Linked DNA regions of Homo sapiens. The protein of the gene in region 3 interacts with the protein of the main gene of each other region in a pairwise test. Each region holds a gene or a part of one and is shown on either strand. Other genes may lie near its edges.

Region 1 (3,649 bases), on a different chromosome or scaffold from region 3:
CTGATTTATATCAGCAAAAGCCAACCTTTTCAAGCTGTAAAAGGAGGAACCTTTTAACCAGAGAGCCCTTGGATATAAGCCTGATGTTTTAAGTTAGGAAAATAAGCATTTTCCCACAGATCCATTGATCAGTCAGCTTTATTTATTTATTGAGACAGGGTCTTGCTCTGTCACTCAGGCTGGAGTGCAGTGTCACAATCTCGGCTCACTGCAGCCTCAGCCTCCCGGGTTCAAGCGATTCTCCAGCTTCAGCCTCCCAAGTAGCCAGGACCAAAGGCTCACACCACCACGCTGGCTAATTTTTGTATTTTTAGGAAAGATGGGTTTTGCAATGTTGGCCAGGCCGGTTTCAAACTCTGGAGCTGAGAGCGATCTGCCTCCCTTGGCCTCACAAAATGCTGGGATTACAGGTGTGAGCCACTGCGCCTGACCAGCTTTTTAATTCACTAAGTATTTATTGAGCACCTACTACGTGATGGGGGCAATTTTCGGTGATGGGGACAGAGCAGTGAAGAGAATGGACAGAAGTCCCTGCTTTTCTGAGGCTTACATTGCAGAGGGGGTGGAAAACGCAATAAAAAGTTAAAATACACATGGTAGGTTATCTGATGTATACAAAGGAGGCAAAGAGCTGGAAGGGGACTCAGCTGGTGGGTGTTTGGAGGCAAGGGGAGGGAGAGGAATGCAGTATTGTCTGGAGAGAGTGAGCAAGCCTCAGGCCATGTGGGGGAAGAACATTCCAGCTGGAGGGCGCATCAGGGCTAAGCCTGGCTTAGCTGAGGGCCAGCAAGGGGGCCTTGTGCCAGGCATGGGCGAGTAATGGATGGAAGAGGAGGCAGTGAGTCAGAGATAAATGGGTCATTCAGGTGTGCGACAGCCCTGCTAGGTGAGATAGTAAAACTCAATATGCTGATGTAATTTTTAAATGCCTATTTTATAGGTCTGTCTCTTTTCAAATGTTTGTTAAAACAGAAGCCACACTGAGAATTTCTAAGTCTAATCAGAATAAAGATTTGTAATATTTTATGCCCATGTTTATGTGGTTTTAAGCACAATTTGTAATGTTTTCATCATTTCCCGTGCTTGCTCTGAAAGTGGGCTGTTCCAGGGCTGTGAAGGGGTCCGTCCTTTTCCTCATTGCTCAGGTCAGGTGGGAATAGTTTCTGCTTATACTTGCAGGGTGGTTTGAAAAATCTTTGTTTCTGAGTATCTGTGTTCCTCAAACATGCTTAAGCCAGCACTCATTATCTCTGCCTTTCCTCCCTCTGAAAACCAGCAAATGTTTTCTCTTAAAACTTTTTTTTTTTTTTTTTGGACCCAAGGAGCAATGGTACAAACAAAAACTCTGTTTTGAGCTTAGAAACTTGGAGGTGAGAGTAAACTGGAAGCTGCCCGGCCCCTCCCTCATGAATTATTAGCACAAATCAGGAGAAAAATTCCTCTATCAAAGGACAGTGATACGTCCCAGCACTTTCTCCATTAAAACGTGTGGGTGGAATGCACTAGGGACTAGGTCCTGTAAGACTCAGTTGTGCTTCGAAGAAACTGCTAGGGAATGTTTGAAGCATAGATAGACCGGGGGAGGGAGGAGTAACTGTTTCTTGAAGCTGCACCAGATTCCAGGCCTGGTGGCAGGCTGCCCGGTCTAAGCTGGCAGAGCCCCTACACCCCTGACCTTCTTGTACACAGGTGAGATCTGGTTGAAGTAAACATTGGCCTGGAGGCCTTCCTGCAGCAAATCCTGTGTGGGGCACTGGGGACCAGGGTGGTCAACAAATAATCAGGCACGTCCCTGCCTCATGGAGCTTGCCGTCTCCTGGATTCAAGCAAGCAATTGTAGTGGGGTGAGGGGGATTCTAGGAGAGTCACTCAGGGCCCTTTGAGAGGCCAAAGCTTTGTTGAAATAGGGGGCATCAGAGTTGAGGCCTGCAGACCCCAGATAGTCTGAAGAGATAACATCAGCCTTAAAGTGGAGGAGGAAGAGAGCTGACGGTACAGACATTGTCTGCAGGTTGAGGAAGGTTGGGGTGGGGAGAGGTGGAGTGTTAACAGGACCTTTGGTGATTGGTTGATTATAAAGAAAAAACACATGTGTGGTCTTTGCGTCTCTTCAGGGTAGCCTGAGCCAGGGCTGCTGCACTGCCCCCATAGCTCTGACTTGAAGTTTGGCCATCAGAATGGTGGTACTGAAGGCCTTGGGCTTCAGTGGTCCCCCCATACTGCTTATTTCCCTTTGGGGAAGTAGGTGAGTGGAGAAACATTTGAAACTTGTAGAGTGACTTAGCTATAGGACAGCCGGCAAAGCTTGGCCTCTGGAGCCAGACCGCCTGGCATTGAATCCCAGCTCCCTCTTCATAGCTGTGGGACCTCTGGCAGATTATGTAATTTCTGTGCCTCAATTTCTTCTTCTTTAAAATGGGATTGTGTCTCAGTTTTTGCTGTGAAATAACCAAAACCCAAAGCCGTGGGGAAGGGCAGGTGGAGGGAAGACAGCTGTCTTGACATCAGGTGATACAGGCTGAAATCAGAGGTCTGCTGACTTCTAGGGATACTTGGCACATGGAAGCCTCAGTCTCTTTGTCTTTGAATCTGGGGGCTGCAATTCTTGCCTACATCCCTGGGTAGCCTGGAGGATGGTAAGGGATGCTGTGTGAGAGAGTGCTTTGAGAGCTGCCCAGCCTGAGTGGACAAGAGGGCCCCCTGTGTGCTTGGCTGGCAGGGAGGGCTGAGACCCGCTGGGCGCTGCAAACAGAGAAGGTTCCAATGAGATGTCCACTGGGGCCAAACTGGCCATGGGGCCTGGCAGTGGCTCTGTTGTTCTCTTCCCCCAGGTCCTGCCATGACCTTTCTTTGTCAGATTGGCACTGGGAAGGGGGTCAGAGGGAGGGCTCATACAGGCCAGGATTACAGCGGGATGGACTTTGTAGTCACTGGATCAGCAGGGCGTTGCGCTGTGGCCTGCCTGCTGTAATGTGAAAATTAGTTTCCCTGAGTGAGCCCTGCTTTATTTATTTATTTATTTATTTATTTATTTATTTATTTGAGACAGGGTCTCAAAAACCGGAGTGCAATGATGTGATCTCTGCCACTGCAACCACTGCCTCCCAGGTTCAAGCGATTTTCGTGCCTTAGCCTCCCGAGTAGCTGGGATTACAGGCATGTGCCACCACACCCGGCTAATTTTTGTGTTTTTGGTAGAGACCGGGTTTTGCCATGTTGGTCAGGCTGGTCAACTCCTGACCTCAAATGATTCGCCTACTGCAGCCTCCCAAAGTGCTAGTATTACAGGCGTGAGCTACTGCGCCCGGCCTCCCGCTTTGTTTTTGTTTTTTCCTGAGACAGTGTTGGTCTCTGTTGCCCAGGGTAGGGTGCAGTGGCACAATCATAGCTCCCTGGAGCCTCGAACTCCTGGGCTCAAGTGATCCTCCCACCTCAGTCTCCCAAGTAGCTGGGACTACAGGAGTGCGCCACCACGCCTGGCTAATTTTTGTTTTTGTAGAGATGGGGTCTCTCCTTGTTGCCCAGGCTGGTCTCAAACTCCTGGGCTCAAGCAGTCCTCCTGCCTCGGCTTCCCAAAGTGTTGGGATTACAGGCATGAGCCGCCACACCCGGCCTCCCAGGCTGTTCTTGGACAGACTGACCGTGAGGA
Region 2 (3,649 bases), on a different chromosome or scaffold from region 3:
GTGGTTTTACTTTGTATCTTGTTGTTTCTTGCGTCCCCACCCGGGAGGGCTGGCTTGGTGCAGTGTGACTGCCTGGCTGGCCACCGCAGCCAGTCCCAGGGGCTTTGTTTGCTGGCCAGGCTCTGACTGCTGGGACTGTCCCCCCGCAGGGAGGTCAGGCCTCCTTCCCCACCCCATCTCCAGGGGCTTCTTTTTTCAGGTTGCTGAGGGGTGGGAGCTGTCTGCAGAAGCCGGGGTTGTGGGAAAACTCAGCTGGAGCTCCCAGGAGGGGCATGTTTGATTCTGTGACCCTGCAGTGTAGAGACTGTGCCCTCCTGCTTCTCTCTTGTACGAGTGTCCCCAGCCCTGCTTGCTTATCTCTGGCGATAGATAGGGAGCTCACTCCTTCCCAGCAGCCTGGTCAGTCCCTGCCCTGGAGGGAGTGTTCTCCACTTGGAGCTGACATCTGCCATCTCCTCCATGCCCCCACCTCCCGCCCCACACATACACGCCCCATTGGGAGCAGCTGTGGAGATGTGAGGACAGTGAGGTCTGCTATTCTCCCAGGTGAGCCACCCCAAGGGGCCTGGGCCCCCTCACCACGTGGGCCACTCCCTCTCGACACATCCCAGATGGTCCTTTCCCCTCCTGAGTGGACATACAACCATCAGACAGCACCAGGATACTCTGAGCTGCATGCATTTGGGGGGGCCCAGACGACTTGGGGAACCTGGGAGCTCACACCCCATGTGACATCTCAGGGTGGCCAGAGCTCTGTGGCTTGAAACAGGAGTTGGAAACCTGAATTTTTATGTGAACGTTTTCAATTTATGCATGCTGGTAACCAATTTAAAATGAGAAACCCACTGTGTGAGCCAAACGAAAGCACTTATGGGCCAGATAATGCTGGTGGGCCCCCGACTATGACCTGAGGTATGGTGGAACACGTTCACTGGGTGGATGCAGAACCAGGGCTCAGAGAGGGCCAGGGCCGTGCCTGGGGTTGCGCAGCAAATGTGGAAAATGCAGAGTCAGGCTTGGGCCTGATGTTCTTTATCATTGCCCTGGGCCTGGAGTGGGGAGATGGGCAAGCCTGAGGTTTGGGATTGCTTAAGCATGGACAGAATGTGATGCTGGGGGCCTGGGGGGCCAAGGGGCCAGGTCACCCTGGGGGCTGTGCCGGTGAGCAGAGCAAGGGGATGGACTTGGTGGACCGGGTGGTGGGGCAGGGTGGGCTGGGAAGGAAGTTCTTCTGGAAGAAGTTCTAGGACAGCCCTGTGTCCTGTGGCTGGGGTACTGTCCTCTCAGGACACAACGTTCATGCCTAGGTGTGTGATGCACCTGAAGGCAGGAGGGCAGGGAGCTTGGGTCTCAGTTCACCAAAGATTTCCTTTTGTTTTGAGACGGGGTCTCCCTCTGTTCCCCAGGATGGAGTGCAGTGGCACGATCTCGGCTCACTCCAACCTCCGCCTCCGGGGTTCAAGCAGTTCTCCTGCCTCATCCTCCTGAGTTGCTGGGATTACAGGCACACGCCATCATGCCTGGCTAATTTTTGTATTTCTGGTAGAGACAGGGTTTCACCACGTTGGCCAGGCTGGTCTCGAACTCCTGACCTCAAGTGATCCGCCTGTCTTGGCCTCCCAAAGTGCTGGGATTACAGGCGTGAGCCACCTCGCCTGGCCAAAGATTTCCTTTCTTAAAAGACACTGTCAGCTGGCACGGTGGCTCATGCCTGTAATCCCAGCACTGTAGGAGGCTGAGGCAGGAGGGTCGCTTGAGGTCAAGAGTTCAAGACCAATCTGGGCAACACAGTGAGACCCTTGTTAAAAAAAATTAGCTGGGTGTAGTGGTGTGTGCCTGTAGTTCCACCTACTCAGAAGGCTGAGGTGGGAAGATCGCTTGAGCTCGGGAGGTTGAGGCTGCGATGAGCTATGATCACACAACTGTGCTCTAGCCTGGACAACAGAGTGAGACCCTGTCTCTAAAAACAAACAGAAAGAACTGTTGAGAGTGGACCTGAGGGCCTCTCCCTTGCAGTCTGGAGGGTCCTTGCTTTTGCTGACTGGGAGTAAAGGCCCTGATTCTCCCAGGGGCCCATTCCTAATGTCAGTGGCTTTACGGAGTCCTCCAGCTTCCTGAGGTGGCACCTCAGTGTGAGGGCAGGGGCGTCAGCCCTCGAGGCCCCAGAGGCTCCCTAGCACTCCGCCGGCCCTGAGCCTGGTCTGGGCATGGGCTTCCATCTCCCTGCCCGTCCATGGCCCTCCACCGCAGCCTTCCCTGCCTCGGTCACACAACTCCCCCTTCCAGGCGCTCCTGGACTTCTGTCTTCTGTCCGCTGCATCCTATCCATCAGCAAATCCTGTGGGTCCTACCTTCAAAATAGATCCCCTGTGCCACCATCTCCTGCCTCTCTTCGCTCACTGCCCTGGGCTCTCTCACCTGCTCCCTGCTGGCTCCCGTGTCTCAGCGCAGTGGGCAGCTGGGTGGGTCCCTTGCACTGGAGAGTCCCAGGCTCCAGCGCTTACAGGCACGCCCAGAGGCCCTCACAGCAGGCTGGAAGCCCGTTGCTCTGCAGTTACCACCCGTGTGCTGATGTGGCTCAGCCCTGGGGGCCCTCTCTGTCCTTCACCTTTCTGCTGCTGGTCCGGCCTCAGCCCCTTGGCCCTGCCACTCCCTGCCTGACGCCCTCCTCAGAGAAGCCCTCCTCTTCCGCCGGACTGACACGGGCTCCCCTGACACTGCCACGTCCTCCTTCCGTCTCCTTGATTCCCTTCATTTATTTCATCATGGGGCTCATGCCTGCCTGGCGTTCAGTTCTCTACAGATTTGCTCTTGGGTTTATTATCTGCCCCTCCACCCCTGAGGGTGTCAGTGCTGTGAGGACGCTGGGAACCTGTCTTGCTGGCTGATAAACCCCTGGTTCCTAGAGGGGCTGGGTGCAGAGGAGGCGTTCCTTTAGAAATGGGGCAGGCTTGGGGACCACTGCTGTGGTAACGAGTCCTGCTGTCCCTCTGTCACTGCCCTATGGGGCTGCGCTTTAGGCTGGGAGTCGGAGAAGGAGCTCTTGCCTGTGACTTTGGGGAGCACGCTGTCTATAAGAGTCAGGTACGGCCACTGGGTCACAAGTGGGGCTACAGGCACTGGGGACTTGGGCCAGGGTGGAGGAGGGAGGAGGCATGAGGACTGGTGAGAAGGTGGCATTTGAGTGGCTTGTGCAAGATGAGAGGGGAGAAGAGCCCTTGGGGGAGTTCAGGCCTAAGGGCCTGTGGGAGGGTCGGGTTGGGATGGCTCCTGCAGGGCCTTGAGTGCCAGGCTCAGCTGGGAATCCAGACCTTTCCTTTCTGGCCATGGGAAACTGGGGCGGGCTGTGGGGCCGTGGCATGTCGGGGCCAGCTGCTCTCAGGCCAGACTGGGTTCCCTGGGAAAGGGGAGGAGTGGTGGGCAGGGAGGTGGCGGGGCTGTTCCAGTGGAGATCAGAGCTGAGACTGGAGTGGGGACAGGGCCTAGAGATGGAAGGAAGGGGTAGAGACCGTGGGGAGGGAGTGGAGACAGATTGCGGGGAGAATGGACATGACTGGGGGAGTTGGTGGGGTGTTAGGGACAGCAAGGCATCAGGATGCATTTGCCAGTGCTACTGGGGAGGGGGACAGGAGCGTCCCCTGGGGCTAAG
Region 3 (3,649 bases):
AGAGTACAGTTTTGCCTACCTTCTAGCTAAATGTATGTCCCATGTTTGGTTTAGATGAAGAAGTCAGTAAGTAATTCCTAAAGATTTGATTTTTCTGGTTTATTTTTTATAGATTCAGAAGGTTTGTAACAAGAAACTATGGGAAAGATACACTCACCGGAGAAAAGAAGTTTCTGAAGAAAACCACAACCATGCCAATGAACGAATGCTATTTCATGGTAAGATTCCTCCCCACCAACTCTACCACTGTCTTCCACATTAGGATAGTTTTTTTGTTCAGATATGAAATAATAATAAGCCTGTATATTCTTTATGTCAGTATTTTAAGATAAACCTACTATTTCTGTAACTTTCACATTTATATTTTCAACTTCTTTTGAATTTGTGTATTTTATAATGGATTGTTTTTAAATAAGATTACCACAATAAAAATAGAAATGAGAGTGTTGACTATCTTTTCCTTTTTTCTTTAAATAGTAAATTTTGCTTATGGTCACTCTAGGAAATTTTGTGTTTTCCATTTAACTAGTTGATTGAATTAAAAATAAGACCTGGGAATCACCTCAGAAGAAGGTGTACATCCTATTCTGATTTTGATTCTAAGTATCAAACCCACACAATTTGAAAAGAGCCATTGTTATTGAACCTGTAGAGGTTTCTGATGACTGTAGAATTGAAACCATAGAATTGAATTGAAAGCACAATTACTTATTCTTCTTGGAATTTTCTACTTTTTTTGTATTATAAGCTGGCAGGTGTTGATTAGTCTTTCAAATTTTAGCAAAGTTAAACATATTAATGTAGTATTTATGAGGGCTTCAAGTACATTACCCATAGTAGTTCCAGTCTGTTTCTTCATTTGTCCTTGATTGCAGAAAAATTTTAGAGACCTGTAAAGTTCTCTAAAACACAGTAAATTTCATAATACCCTGGGAGAATGGCTGTAACAGAATGGATTCATGTGCAGAATCTAAACATGTTGCACTCCTTATTCCAAAACCCTAAATAATTATCATGATAATCTCTTGACACAGAGCATATTTATTTATCTGTTAATTGATGGTTATAATATGGTTTTTCTAATTTGTAATATAAATAATTTTGGTTTTCCCAAGTTAATTCAAAAAATGATTCTATTCATCTGTATTTCTGTAAAGTAGAATTCAGTATATTTTCCTGTCTGTCTGTGGAAAGGGAATGTGATCTTGATAAATGAATTAGCTGTGGTTTTTTGACTTTTTCCATCCCCCACTCTACTCCACTCCCAAGGAAAGAGGAGAGAGAAGTCAATGTGCAGGGGGTGAGGGAAAGCACCACATTTGCAGATAGAATCTTGTATCGTAATTAATGAAAGGCAGAAGTGGAAGGATAGAAGAGAAGAGGTATAAGAAAGAGAATAAGAATGTGAAAGTTGGGCCGGGTGCGGTGGCTCACGCCTGTAATCCCAACACTTTGGGAGGCCAAGGTGAGTGGATCACCTGAGGTCAGGAGTTTGAGACCAGCCTGACCAATATGTTGAAACCCTGTCTCTACTAAAAATACAAAAGTTAGCCAGGCATGGTGGTGTGCACCTATAGTCCCAGCTACTCAGGAGGCTGAGACAGGAGAATTGCTTGAACCCGGGAGGCAGAGGTTGCAGTGAGCCAAGATCATGCCACTGCACTCCAGCCTGGGCCACAGAGCGAGACTACATCTCAAAAAAATTTAAAAAAAAAAAGAATGTGAAAGTCTACTTGGGCCACTTGGTATCTTCAAAAAAGCACACAGGCATAGGCATCATTCTAAGACCTAATTGCATTTAGCTTTGCTATCTAAAGTGAATTATGAGCCTCTTGGTTTTAGATTTTTATGGATTTGCAGTCTGGCATTTGGTAACTCTTACACTGATATTTCAAGTACTCTGTTTTTCTAGTTCAATCTGTGTCCTTATTTTAGCACATAAACCAGCACTCTGTTAGAAACATTAGTTGATGTTAGCAGTTCTTTATTCTAAAATAGCTGGCTGACAGTTAACTTGTTACCCTTTTTCGTTTTGGCTTTATTATGGTTGGGCTATATATTTAAGAATTCAGTTTCTAAGAAACTAGTTTTTTACTTTTTATTCTAAGATAAATTTTAAATTATTGTTACCCATCTATATGTGTTTCAGGGTCTCCTTTTGTGAATGCAATTATCCACAAAGGCTTTGATGAAAGGCATGCGTACATAGGTGGTATGTTTGGAGCTGGCATTTATTTTGCTGAAAACTCTTCCAAAAGCAATCAATATGTATATGGAATTGGAGGAGGTACTGGGTGTCCAGTTCACAAAGACAGATCTTGTTACATTTGCCACAGGTAAGAGATCACTTGTTCTCATTTATTTTGGTGGTAATCAGATAAGAACTAGTTGCATTTTTGAGGGCAAAGCATTATGTTGGACAGTCTTAGGAATGCAAGCTAGGCATGTTTTAGATTGCTTTTGGCCCTCTCACCAATTGTAATAATAGCTAATATTTATTAAATGATCCGTATGGGCCAATTATAATTTAAGCACTTGACCTGTTTGGCTAATTTAATCATTAGAATATCTGGTGCCTTAAAGCATACTGAGTAGAAAGTAACATTAGGCATGAAAGAGGCTTTATTGTAGCCCTTGAGTATTGTAGGACTCTGTGGACTCTAAAAATCTAGTATTCAAATGCTAAAATGGCATTATTTGTCAAATCTAATTATTTGATGGCAGTGCCTGAGCCTCTCTTCCACTGTGATACGATCCTAATCCTCAATTTGCAATATTACTATAAGAACTTGAAATTAAAACATTGATCCTTTTTGAAAGGAAATAATAATCAAATAACTACTTTGCACTTTTTTTTTCCACTTTTAATTACCTGTTCTAACTCACTTGTTAAAAATCATTTAAGTAACTTGTCCCTAACTTATAAAATCCTTATAGGCAAAAAGTAATGCCACTTGAAAAATCCAGTAAGATTAATTCCTGAGATTTATTCGACAGTTAGGGCACTGCTTATTGAATATACAGAGCAGTAGTTTATCAAGCATTAGCATGCATTAGAGTCACCTAGATGGCTTGTTTAAATCACAGATTCTTAGGCTCCACCTTCTCAGTTGCTGATTTAGTAGATCTGGGATGAGACTCTAGAATTTGAGTTTCTACCAAGTTCCCAGATGTGACACTGTATTTCTGACCACTGATCTAGAAAAAAACCCCTAGAGCAGTACTTTGCACTTTGGCAGCACATTGGAATCACCCAGGGAATATTAAAAAACTATTAATGCCTGTGTCCCACCCTCACAGAATCTCTTTTAATTGGTCTGGGGCATGATCTGGATATTAGAATTTTTAAAAGCTTCCCAGTTGATTTCAAAGGGCTTCCGAGCTGAAGAATTGCAGTCATGGAGGGAAACAGGTTCTTTCTTTGTGTTTGTTTTGTTCTTACTGTTACCCCTCTAAATTTAGGCCTGCATAGGTAGTACACAGTAGGCCCTCCTATGTATGACGTCCCACTCACTTCTATTTTAGATCATAAATTGGAGTGGTTAGGAGGCATGTAATTTCCTGTAAATTGAACACTGCTGTTTTTATTTGTCATATATGGTCTGAAGGCTAAATAGTTCTGATTATTAGTAATAAGCAGCATTCTAAT

The links.
Region 1: the proteins of TNKS2 (region 3) and SH3BP5 interact in a two-hybrid assay, tested with the Homo sapiens proteins (one large-scale study listed by IntAct).
Region 2: the proteins of TNKS2 (region 3) and FBLN2 interact in a two-hybrid assay, tested with the Homo sapiens proteins (one study listed by IntAct).

Annotation. Positions count from the first base shown.
Region 1 is NC_000003.12:15,322,521-15,326,169, reverse strand, and holds part of SH3BP5 (SH3 domain-binding protein 5), read left to right. Parts: intron 1-3,649. UniProt on the Homo sapiens protein: Functions as a guanine nucleotide exchange factor (GEF) with specificity for RAB11A and RAB25. Inhibits the auto- and transphosphorylation activity of BTK. Plays a negative regulatory role in BTK-related cytoplasmic signaling in B-cells.
Region 2 is NC_000003.12:13,565,997-13,569,645, forward strand, and holds part of FBLN2 (fibulin-2 isoform a precursor), read left to right. Parts: intron 1-2,743; exon of another isoform or gene 2,744-3,084; intron 3,085-3,649. UniProt on the Homo sapiens protein: Its binding to fibronectin and some other ligands is calcium dependent. May act as an adapter that mediates the interaction between FBN1 and ELN.
Region 3 is NC_000010.11:91,857,313-91,860,961, forward strand, and holds part of TNKS2 (poly [ADP-ribose] polymerase tankyrase-2), read left to right. Parts: intron 1-112; coding exon 113-218; intron 219-2,149; coding exon 2,150-2,336; intron 2,337-3,649. UniProt on the Homo sapiens protein: Poly-ADP-ribosyltransferase involved in various processes such as Wnt signaling pathway, telomere length and vesicle trafficking.